2 separate regions of the Homo sapiens genome follow, and region 1 is linked to region 2. The links come from fine-mapping of genetic effects on gene expression. A gene starts in region 2. The other region holds a variant in brackets. All regions are shown on one strand. Distances are from middle to middle.

Evidence for each region. PIP is the estimated chance that this variant, and not a neighbour inherited with it, causes the effect. A credible set is the group of variants that fine-mapping cannot tell apart.
Region 1: its variant is the best candidate, but not a certain one, in a credible set for the expression of NEO1 in whole blood (INTERVAL, PIP 0.74).

The regions. Positions count from the first base shown.
Region 1 is chr15:73,116,026-73,121,409 of GRCh38, reverse strand. It overlaps NEO1 (neogenin 1), which reads right to left. Exons shown (of 29, transcript NM_002499.4): 2 at 4,553-4,870. Among named protein-coding and RNA genes, the nearest start is that of NEO1, 66 kb to the right of the region's middle. The variant G/A (reference allele first, on the strand shown) is at 2,632.
Region 2 is chr15:73,049,554-73,054,937 of GRCh38, reverse strand. It overlaps NEO1 (neogenin 1), which reads right to left and starts at 2,475. Exons shown (of 29, transcript NM_002499.4): 1 at 2,133-2,475. The coding sequence starts at 2,262. RefSeq lists silencers at 2,156-2,535, 2,766-3,085, 3,176-3,245, 3,306-3,355.

The DNA of each region.
Region 1 (5,384 bases), 66 kb before region 2:
CTGAGAACACAGCATTACTTCTGTGGTATTTCTCCCAAAAATGAGGAATCTGAATCTATTCAGGGAGAAATCAAACAAACTCAAAATGAGGCAAGGAAAAACCAAGTTATATCTAAAGAGTTTTAAAGGACACAGCCACCAAGTGAAATATGTAATCTTGGGCCAGAAATAAGAGTATGTGTGGGAGGAGGACAGGCGGGTACTCTGCTTTTGGTTTTTACTATAAAGAACATTATTGAGATAATCAGTGAAATCTAAATTAAACAGTAGTATTGTATTAAGGTTAATTTCCTAATTTTGATGGACATCTGTGGTTATCTAGGAGAATGTCCTTGTTTCAAAGAAATATACACGTAGGTATTTAGGTGGCAGTTACAGGAAAACCTGTCTGCAATTTACTCTTACTGGCTCCGAAAAAATATGTCTTTGGATGTATGCATTTTTGGGGGGTTAAGGCAGATACGATAAGATGTTAACAATCAGGTAATCTAGGTGAAGGTATATGAGATTTCTTGGTTCTATTCTTGCACCTACTCCCTACGTTTAAAATGATCTCAAAATAAAATGTGAACCAAAAATGTCGTCATAAATATAGACGCCACAGGATGTAGCAGCTAAGAGCATCAGTTTTCAAGTCACATATCTGAATCTGAATCCCAACACCACCACTTCATGGGTGTCTGAAGTTGGCAAGTTATTTAACCACTCCCTAAGACTCAGTTTCTTCACAAGTAAAATGAGAATAACAGGCCTCACAGGATTGTTAAAAAAAAAAAAAGTACTTAAAATAAATAATTTATATATAGTATATTGCATAAACACTTAACTAGCTATTATAATATCTAAAAAGTGATTGCTATGCTCAGAATAAAACAATATGTTTCTTTAAGGAAGAGCAAACAAATCATGAGAAATGATTACAGGTTTTCTAGTTTTATGATGGTGAATTAGTCCAAACATAAATCACACAGGTTTTACAGCCCTGCAATAAACTTTTTCTTTTTCTTATTTTTTTTTTATTTCAAGGGGATTTTTGAAGGAAAAAAATAAAGATAAAATTATCTAAAAAATCTGCTTTTTTACCTTGAGCTCCCCAGATTTGACCAAAAATCTACTTTTAAGAAACCAGAATATCAGAAGATAAGAATTAACAAAGATAAACACAGAATTTGATCAAGTTGGGGAAAGGAGGAAATCTTAATCAATAAAACCAAAATATGGTTCTATTTTAATTAAATTAAATTAAATTAAATTAATTAATTAATTTTTTTTATGAGACAGAGTCTCACTCTGTCACCCATGCTGGAGTGCAGTGGCACAATCTTGGCTCACTGCAACATCTGCCTCCAGGGTTCAAACAATTCTCCTGCCTCAGCCTCCCAAGTAGCTGGGATTACAGGCGGGCACCACCATACTGGCTAATTTTTGTATTTTTAGTAGAGATGGGGTTTCACCATGTTGGTCAGGCTGGTCTCAAACTCCTGACCTCAGGTGATCCGCCCGTCTTGGCCTCCTATAGTGCTGGGATTATAGGCGTAAGCCACTGCGCCCAGCTCAGTTGTATTTTTAAAGAGTCAAAAAATTCTTCCTCCTGAGGTCTCATGAAAATTAATAATTTTTAAAATGTAAGCTCACAAAAACATATGGAGAATTGGCAGACAAGAGATTTCAAAAAATTTCTGAGTAGGGAAAGCAGATGGAGGACTAGTAACTGACATAACAAGGCAGGGAACGCTGCAGCTTCCTGCGCTCCCAAGAAGGAAGCCGGTTGTCCTGCTGCCTCTGGAGAACTGCAGGAGAAAAAGGAGAGTGGGAGTTAAGACCCGGAGTTGACAAGAAGATATTAACAATGTCTGTATTTAGAACACCCTATTACCCCACCTCTGGGCACAAAATACTCACAGCCAGCATACTGCCCAGGCAGAAAAACAGAAATTTTGGTTGTGGAGAAATGAGACAGCTCAGAGAAAAAGACCTCTCATACTTAATTCTATGAGTTACCTATTTAATGTTCTTTCAAAAACTTCCCTTCTTGCTTGACTTGGCTACAATCAGTTTCTACTGCTTGCAACCAAAAAACTCTAAGTCTTTTAGATTGGCAATTTGGCAGAATTTTTTTAGGTTTTATTGAGATGTAATTTATATACCATAAAGTTCACTATCTAAAGTACATAATTTAATATTTTTTAGTATATGAACAAAGTTGTGTAATCATCACCATAATCTAATTTCAGAACCTTTTCATCATTCCGGGAAGAAATCTTGTACTCACTTGCAGTCACTCTGCATAACCCATAACTACCCCAGGACACCTACAAGTGGAACTGCTAGGTCATATGGTAACACTATGGTTAACATTTTGAGGAACTGACAAACTAGTACCTTTTAATTGCGCGCACACACACACACACACAGTGTATCCTATGATCCAGCAATCCCAATTCCAGTAATCTGTTTTACAGAAATAAAGATTTGCAGAAGGCAGTTCACTATAGTATTGCCTATAACATCCAACAATTTTAATCCATTTAATTGTTCATCAATAAAGAAATCTTTAAATAAATCACAGTATGTATATCTAGACAATGTATACCATGCAACTATTTAAAAGAACTTTTATTTAATCCCTTA[G/A]CTTGGGCACTATTTACTCCTGATACCTAGGGCCAAGAGTGGTTTAAATAACTTTCCTACAGAACCCTGTATGCAGTCATCACAGAATGTATCACCTTCTACGGTGCTGCTTGCTTAGATACTGGGTCAAAAAAATGCTTCCTGAAGGTATCAAAGAGGAAGAATGGACAAACTTAGCAGAGGAGAAGAAAGTGAGGAAAAGGTGGAGGATAAAATTAACAGGCAGTGGGGATGCCATGAGCAAAGGCTGGAAGGCAGAGAATAAATGAAAGGAAACAAAACAGTACTGCCAGTGCTTAAAACTGTGGTGAGGGTGATGGTGGATGTAGGGGACGGGGGTGGGGACAGAGGCAGGGTGAAATGTTAAGAAATAAGGTTGGAGAAGTGGAGGACAGCTCATAAAAGGAATCAACAGGCCTGTTATTTAAGAGTTAGATGTTACCTTGATGGTGTTACTGGAGGATCACTGAAGGGTGAGAAAGAGTACTCTAGACAGGGTGGAGACTGGACTGGAGGAGGGGAAGAATAAGGTAGCAGGCAGATGCTTATAAGGCTGTGGTGAGGGAAGACTGGGAGTAGCCTCGGGAAGGAGAAAGTGGATTAAGTACAGAGAAATTACTAAGCAGAATTCACTGGATTTGATGATAGTATATGGGGGGACAGCCGAGAGGAAGGAGCCCATGAATAAAGCCCAGATAAGAGATATTTAAGAACTTAAATTATAAACAGACACTGACCTAAGTGACGTTGTAGAGGCAGTCATTATACTAATTTATTTATGAAACATGTTGGAGAAAGCCTGGCAAATAGATTATTTTTTAAGGGAGAGAGAAGAAAGAAAAGAAAAGGAAGAAAAATAAAAAGAGGAAAGAAGGAAGCAAGGAAGGGAGGGTAGAAGGGAAGGAGGGAGAGAAGGAAGGAAAGAAAAGGGAAATTGGCAAAAGGACCCATTTTTTTCTTCTTTTATTTTTCCATCCTCAATCTATGATTATGGAATAATTACAGAAACTTTGTCACACCCAAATTCAACTTTGAGTATTTGTCCCCAAAGAGGAAAAAAACCAGCCATTATGCTCTGAATGTATAAGCAAATATACTCTGGAGTGAGCATGAGATGGGAAACCATAATCCTGGAGTAGGAATGAGATGGGAGACTACTGTCTCTGAGGTTCTGTCTCACACGTGGGCGTTTCACCAAGGTGAGAGTAAATACAGGACTTAAAGATAACATTTTTGTATAACATGACCCTTCACAAAAACTATTTCATCTGGTACTCAAGTAAAGAAACACTATCTCAGGAACGCTAGTATCTACTACAAAACAGACATGACTTACTTAGAAACCACATCTTACTCTTCAAGATCCCTAATTTTTCTTACACTTTCCATCATTCTTCAAATAAGGATACTCTGAAAAGGAGGGAAAGTTCCTCTCTTTATAACTTTCTGCTCTCCACCTTAATATACACTCTGTAGATTTTAAAACAATTAATCCAATTGAATGTCATTTCCTTGGTTAAGGCATCAAGGAACCAGGATTCTGACTTTACTGCAAGTTTTACAAAACCATACTAAATGGTTATGCTGGGTAAGATAGAAGTTGGCCGTCAAAGTGATTTAATTTTCCTATACCACTTCCTCTGCCACTTCCAAGTTTAAAAGGAGAAAAGAACTGCTCAGTACTTCTGATAGCAATATTAAGCCATCAGACAAGTGGAAACACGCTACAGTTTATTCTCTACGGCACTGAGCAAGCCCTACAGCAAGGTCCCATACGCAGAGTATATGCACAATTGATATCTGTTAAATGAGTATATTTGTTGCTACTAATTAAAAGAAAACTCCAAGAGAACAGTGCTTTTATCAAGATGTATGTTATAAATATTTGAAAATGCAAAAAAAAAAATCACTTAAAACTTACCTGCTACTATGAGCTTCGCTGTTCTACTGATAATAGTTCCAAGACTCTCAACAGTGGCCACACACTGATAATAACCTTCATCAGGTTTATTGTGTTTGGAATGCACCACATTGCTGATAAATAAAGATCCATCCGGGAGAAGCTGGCGTCGATCATCTGATACTAAGTTTAAAAAAGTTCCATCTTTTTTCCATTCAATTTTTGGAGAAGGCTCAGAATATGCTGAACAGTTTAATATAACAGAAGAGCCTCTAACTGAGAGTGTATCCACCGGCTCCACCAGAAAATAAAATGGAGTGAACGTTCGAATGCTGGCTCCTACAAAAATAAAGAAAAAGAACAAAGTTAAGCAAATCTCTCTTCTATTATTTGTCAGAAAATATATTACTAACAAGTCCAAAAATTATTAACTGTTGTTCTTTGAATGTGACACATAAATATAGTCATCTCACTACAAATGTCTAATAAATAAGATTTACTTTCAAGTAGGAAACCAAACTTTGAGCCATTTAGAAGAACATTAGGGGAAAAAAAAACCTTCTACCTGAGATAAACAAGCCTTGTTAAATGACATGAGTATCTAATAAAAGTTTTATTTCAAACCCTAGAATCAGATTTATAAATACTTTAAGTTACTGCATTCAAAGTGAAATTCTCTGTTGAACATAAAAGAGGCAGAAAATTAAAATGATTCTTAAGAGGTATCTTTTTATGTTTATCAGTTATTTGTATTTTTTTCATAAATTTACTATACACACACTTTGTCCATTTTCTAGAGAATTTATTCATCCGACTGACTTAAAAAGCAATCTGCTATCATATTTTACAAATA
Region 2 (5,384 bases):
ATCCCCTATAAAAAGATTTATAAGTCTATCACTCTACAAAAATAAAAAAAATAAAACTACTGACAAAGGACATCTGATTTGCGGACAGCTTGTTCCAGTTGCTGCTTACTCAGTTCTCCAGTCTCTTGATCTCTTCCGCAGTTTTATGGCAGAACTGACCAACCCCTCCTTATTGCAGTTATTCCTCTCGCTTTTGTAATGAAGCAGAGCGGTTTACAGGAAGGACTCTGGACCGAGAATCAGGAGATCTATGTTCTAGACCCAATTAAACGACTAATTACCTGTGAGCCTCCCCACCTCCACTCCTACCCACTCCTCAGATCTCAGTTCTTGTGAGACACTCTTAACACCCAGACTAGGTTATGTCACTCCAGTACCCACTTTGTGAAAACCTATTCTCCTTTGTAGTGCTTATCACAATTACTTAATTATATAATCAGTAGATGGATGGCTATCTTTCCTACCCACACACCAGACTGTAAACTCCATGAAGGCAGAGAGCATATGCCTTGCACCTCATCTGTGCAAAATAAAAACCTGTCAATTGAGTTAATGTTGAAACAGATGTTAAGACCACTTCCTGAGACTGCTTGCATTATTTTTATTATCCTAAGTAATAAAATTACTAGCATTTTAGTTACTTACAAAATTATCGGCAAAACTTTAAACAAAAACTTGAAATTTGGTGAACTACATATGAATTTCCATATAAAATAGATCATGAGTAACAGGAACTTGTTTTCCAAAATAGTTATATTTCTCTTGCTCATCTAAGAGACAGTTGGATCAGTAACCTGCATTTCAGCACCAAAATGTGTTCTAAACCATATACGGACTGAATGTATAAGGGTACATCATGACATAAGTGATGTTTAATTTGACATTAAAACACTATTGTTTACGTAGCTGTTTAGAGAATACCGAGTGGTACTTTACGTTTAAAGCTGTTCTTTAACATTGGCAAAAGCCATGAGCTACATACACACTCTGCAAGGAAATGAAAAGTTTATCAGTCAAGTTACCTTGCAGTGTGATTTTAAATATTATTTCATATAAATCAGGGAAAAACAAGTACTGGTTCAGCGGTAAGACTGCTTTCAAATGTAAAAATATCATATCTCACACGAGTGAAAGTTTTGTCAAGTTTTATGGTACACCACCTTGGTCAAATAATTTTAACAGATTACATGCTAATTTGCCTTTCAACTGCTGAGTGTATCCTGCTCAACAATACCGTAAGGTCCTTCCCGGAAGGCTTGGCATTTTTGTTCGTTGGTCCCCTTAATAGGAATGCAGGTGGTTTCAGTAATCTATAATATTCCAAAAAAGAACTGAAAATGGCTTTTGAGGTTCAATGTTTATACAATGCCATCTGAAAACATTGTACAAGTACCTAAAATCTGATGCTTAGACAATTCCCTTGGTTAAGAGTGGTTAATAGGCTGTAAATATAGTTGTAATCCCCAGGAAAGAAGAGGCATTTCATAACGGAAACACTAACAGATACGATCACTCCGAGCCGCTCTCCAAGGCGTCCTCATCGTTAAATCAACACCAGGGGTTGTGAGCGGGCAATTGTGCCCCTCTGACACCCCCGCTCTTCCGCAGACTCGGGCTCCAATCCCCGCGCGAGGAGTCCCTCGAGACTAGCCAGCTCTTCCTCGAGACTTCGGAAGCTGGGAAATCCCTGGCCAGGGAACCAGGAGCTCAAGCCCCCTCCCCTTTCCTTTCCTGAAAATTAATGAATTGGCCGTCTGATTGTTTATTTAATGAGGTGTGTAGTGGCCTCTACTGGTGCTAGTGTGAGCACAAGAATGTCCCACTCTTACAAGTGGGATGAGCCTGGGGGAGGGGAGAGAGGCGAGGGGTGAACCTGCCTCCAGGTACAAAGCTGGGAACTAGACCCCTGCGCCCCCGACCTGCCCCCCGGCAGCCGCCCCTTCCCCGGTGGCGCCCCCTCTCGCCCTTCTCCTCCCCACCACGCGCGATCCCCTTTCTCTTCGGCAACCGGAGCCGAGGCAGAGAAGTTCCTGCACGTTTCCTCCTGGATCCTAAACAAAAACACCGCAGCCGCGGCCGCCTGAGCCGGTGCCGCGCCCCCGCGAACCCCCGGGCCCGCGCCCGCCGCTTACCTGGGGACTGCGGCGCGGAGCCGCTCCTGGCGGCCGCGGCGCCCGGCGCCCGGCGCCCGAGCAGCAGCAGGCAGTAGAGCCAGAAGGAGGGGGTGCTGAGGAGTCGCCGGGCTCCCCGCTCCGCCGCCATCTCTTCCCCGAGAGTGAGCGGCAGCGGCGGCGACAGCGCCGCGGAGCCCTTGCCTCCTTCCCTCCCGCGCGCCTCAGCCGGTCCCTCGCTGCAAGCTCGGCTCCCGCGGCCGCCGCTGCTCCAGCCCAGCCCGGCCCGGCCCGGCCCGCGCAGCCCCTCTCGCTGGAGGGGAGACTCCAGGGCGCCTCCCTCCTGCAAGGGGGCGGGGAGGGGAGGAGAGCGAAGAAGGGGAGTCAGTACATTCCGGGGCGGGGGGGGGGGGGCGGTGGGTCGGTCTCCAGGTTCCAGGCGCCGCCACCCGCCGCCGACTCCGGCTCCACACACCAGCGCGAGGGGGGCGGAGACCGCGGACGGCGGGGGCGGGGGCGGGGGCGGGGGGCGGGAGTCCCGGGCGCGCACACGCGCACGCGCGCGCCTCGCCCGCACCCCCTCGGCTCCGCGCGCGGCCCGCCCCCGCTCCAATCCCGGCTGCCGCCTCTCGGGCCGTGGCGGGCCCGCTCCCCTCCCCCTTCTCCCCGGAGCCGCTGACGGGTGCGGGGCGCGCGCGCCGGGCGCTGCTGCTGGCGTCAGGGAAACCCCGGAGAAGCGGATCCTCCTGCTCCTCCCGCCCGCTCGCCGCAGCCCCTCGGCTCCGCGCGCCCCCGCCTCCTCCTCCTCGCCTCGGGGACAAATTCCCCCCTCACCTCCCCAGATGCCTCTGGCTGCAGAGACCTGAGGGCGAGAGGCGCTCCGAGCTCAGGCTGGTCCGGGAGGCCGGCGTGGGCGCGCACCTCTGCACAGTCCGGGCCTGGAGCCTCTATATAGGGCCTCAGAGGAAACCGAAAGGCCTCCGGGAGGAAACCTGGGTGCGCAGTGGGTCGGCCCGGGGATTTATGTGCTCGCCAAAAACAATAGCGATCCCGCCCGACTCTTGCTGGGCCCTGGCGCGGCTCCCGTGGGAGGGGGCCGGCCGCGCAGCCGCTGACCTCCGGCTCCCAAGCCGGGCCGCCGTCGCCGCGCGCTTCCCCCGGGCAGCGCCGGGACCCGCCCGAACCGCGCCCCCACCCGCATCGCTCGGCCCGGGTCCAGGGAACTAGGCACAGACAAAGGTGCCCGCTGTCCACTTCCTCAGCTCGTGCGGGGGCCCCGACCGAGCCCTGGGACTCCCCGGGGCCAGTCTTCTCGCAGTAACTGCTACGTTTTACCTGTACCTTTGCGGGACACTTGGCGTTTTCCTACCTGGGAATCACGTCTTTCGCTGATAAACCAAGGAGCAAGTGGGATATGATTTTAAACCACTTAGTAATCGTGAGGCAGCACCCAGGCTACACAAAGTTAGGAGAAAGCAGTTTGTAGTTCCACTGCTGATGAGACTATTGATCATTTTATATACTGCACCCATGAAAAATTTTTAAAGAAAATTTATTTGTATGATTATGCAAGCAGAGTCACGTTTGGTGGTTGATAGGCGTTGGGTTTTATTCACTCTTCTGTGTAGTCGATAACCGAAATGTCTTGCTTCCCACAAGAAAATGGCTATTTCACTAACATATCCCTCTGTGCTTTCTCATAGTTACTTTCCAAAGATATTTTATTCTAAAGCGCCAAAATGAACAATGTAAGACATGGATTAACGTCGGGAGGGAAGAGCTCAGAATCTTCATAAAACCTTAAATCATCAAAACGGTGAAATTAGGAATTCTCATGCTAGTTCTTTGAAACAATTGACTTAATAGAGGAAACACATGCTTATGGTTTTTCACTAGGGAAACCATTTAAATACCTTTTTGTTTTGGTTAGAGTTGTTAACCAGCAAAAATATTTCCTAAATACCCGTGATTGACCTGTTAAATTAGAAATAGATTACCTCCCAATTACTTCACAAGTATTTGCTTAATTAACCTTTAATAATCACATCATTATTCAGTTTTCTGAGATAATTAATGAGAAAAGCTCTTTGAAAACTGTAAATTGCCTTGCAAATGTTAATTTCCTGATATCTTTTCTAAGTCTGGAAAAATTTCATTATATTAAACCTATAACGTGTAATATGACTTCTGAGATGAAGCTTACATTTATCTCCAAGTTTTGAAAAATACATGAGTTGTGGCTAATAACAGACTGATTTTCATATATGACTTATATGAACTGTCTCACTAATTTATCAGCCCACTGTGTATATCAGGTTAATATCAAAAAGTTTAAAACAGTTGTATATTTCTGGCTTCTGATTAAATCACAATTTTAATAAAACCCACTCTATTAAACCACTAGTAGATGGAGCCCCAGATTAAAGCTACAGATCCTAAATCAGTTCAAGATAGTTAAGTAACTCAGGCACACACTTGAATTCAGCTCCTTTACTTTGTTTCAAAGTCACTGACACTGTCGACATGCCCTTTAAAAATCATCATTGAGTAATTAACCTGTTCTTTGTTTAGTAAAGCATATCTGAGAAAAGATTTTCTTAGGCATCTCTTTTATCATTCTTATTCTCCCAACAAGATTTTCAACAAATACTTCAGCCTGCACGTATACTGCTAATCAACACTTTTATGTTGTCTAAACTATCAATCTATGAAGAGATATTAAACCACTGGTGAAATTAACAGTTTTTTCATCTAAGTAAAGTTAGAACATGAGGCCCATGTTCAAGGAATAAGTGCACAAAGAAACTTTAGAGCAAAGAAAACAGAGTGGCCATTGTGTGTCTGTAAAAGTTATCGAAATGCAGGCCAAAAATAACTAGACTGATATCTTGTGAAATTTATGCTAATGTATTTTGATATAAAAATTACATGAAATATTAAAGCCTATGAATATAAAACTTGGTAGGAATCTTATTCTCTATAGTAAAAGGATTTTTTTTTCAACATTAGAAAGGACGTACAATTCAGTGTTTAACTGCTGGCAGTAATGAGATTCTGCAGCTGATTCCCTGGCTGAATCCCAGTGTCCGAGGTTGAGAAGAAGAAAGCTAGTCCCCTGACTAGCAGATCTCAGGATAGAACACTTCCTAGTCACAGCAGACTTCAACTAGAAGTTGCCCCAGTCTTAAGAAAGTGATTTTCTTCTGCACAGAGATTGTTATTTTTATATTTGCCCTTTACATTCCACTAGGTAAGAATTTTTATTTTCTCCCG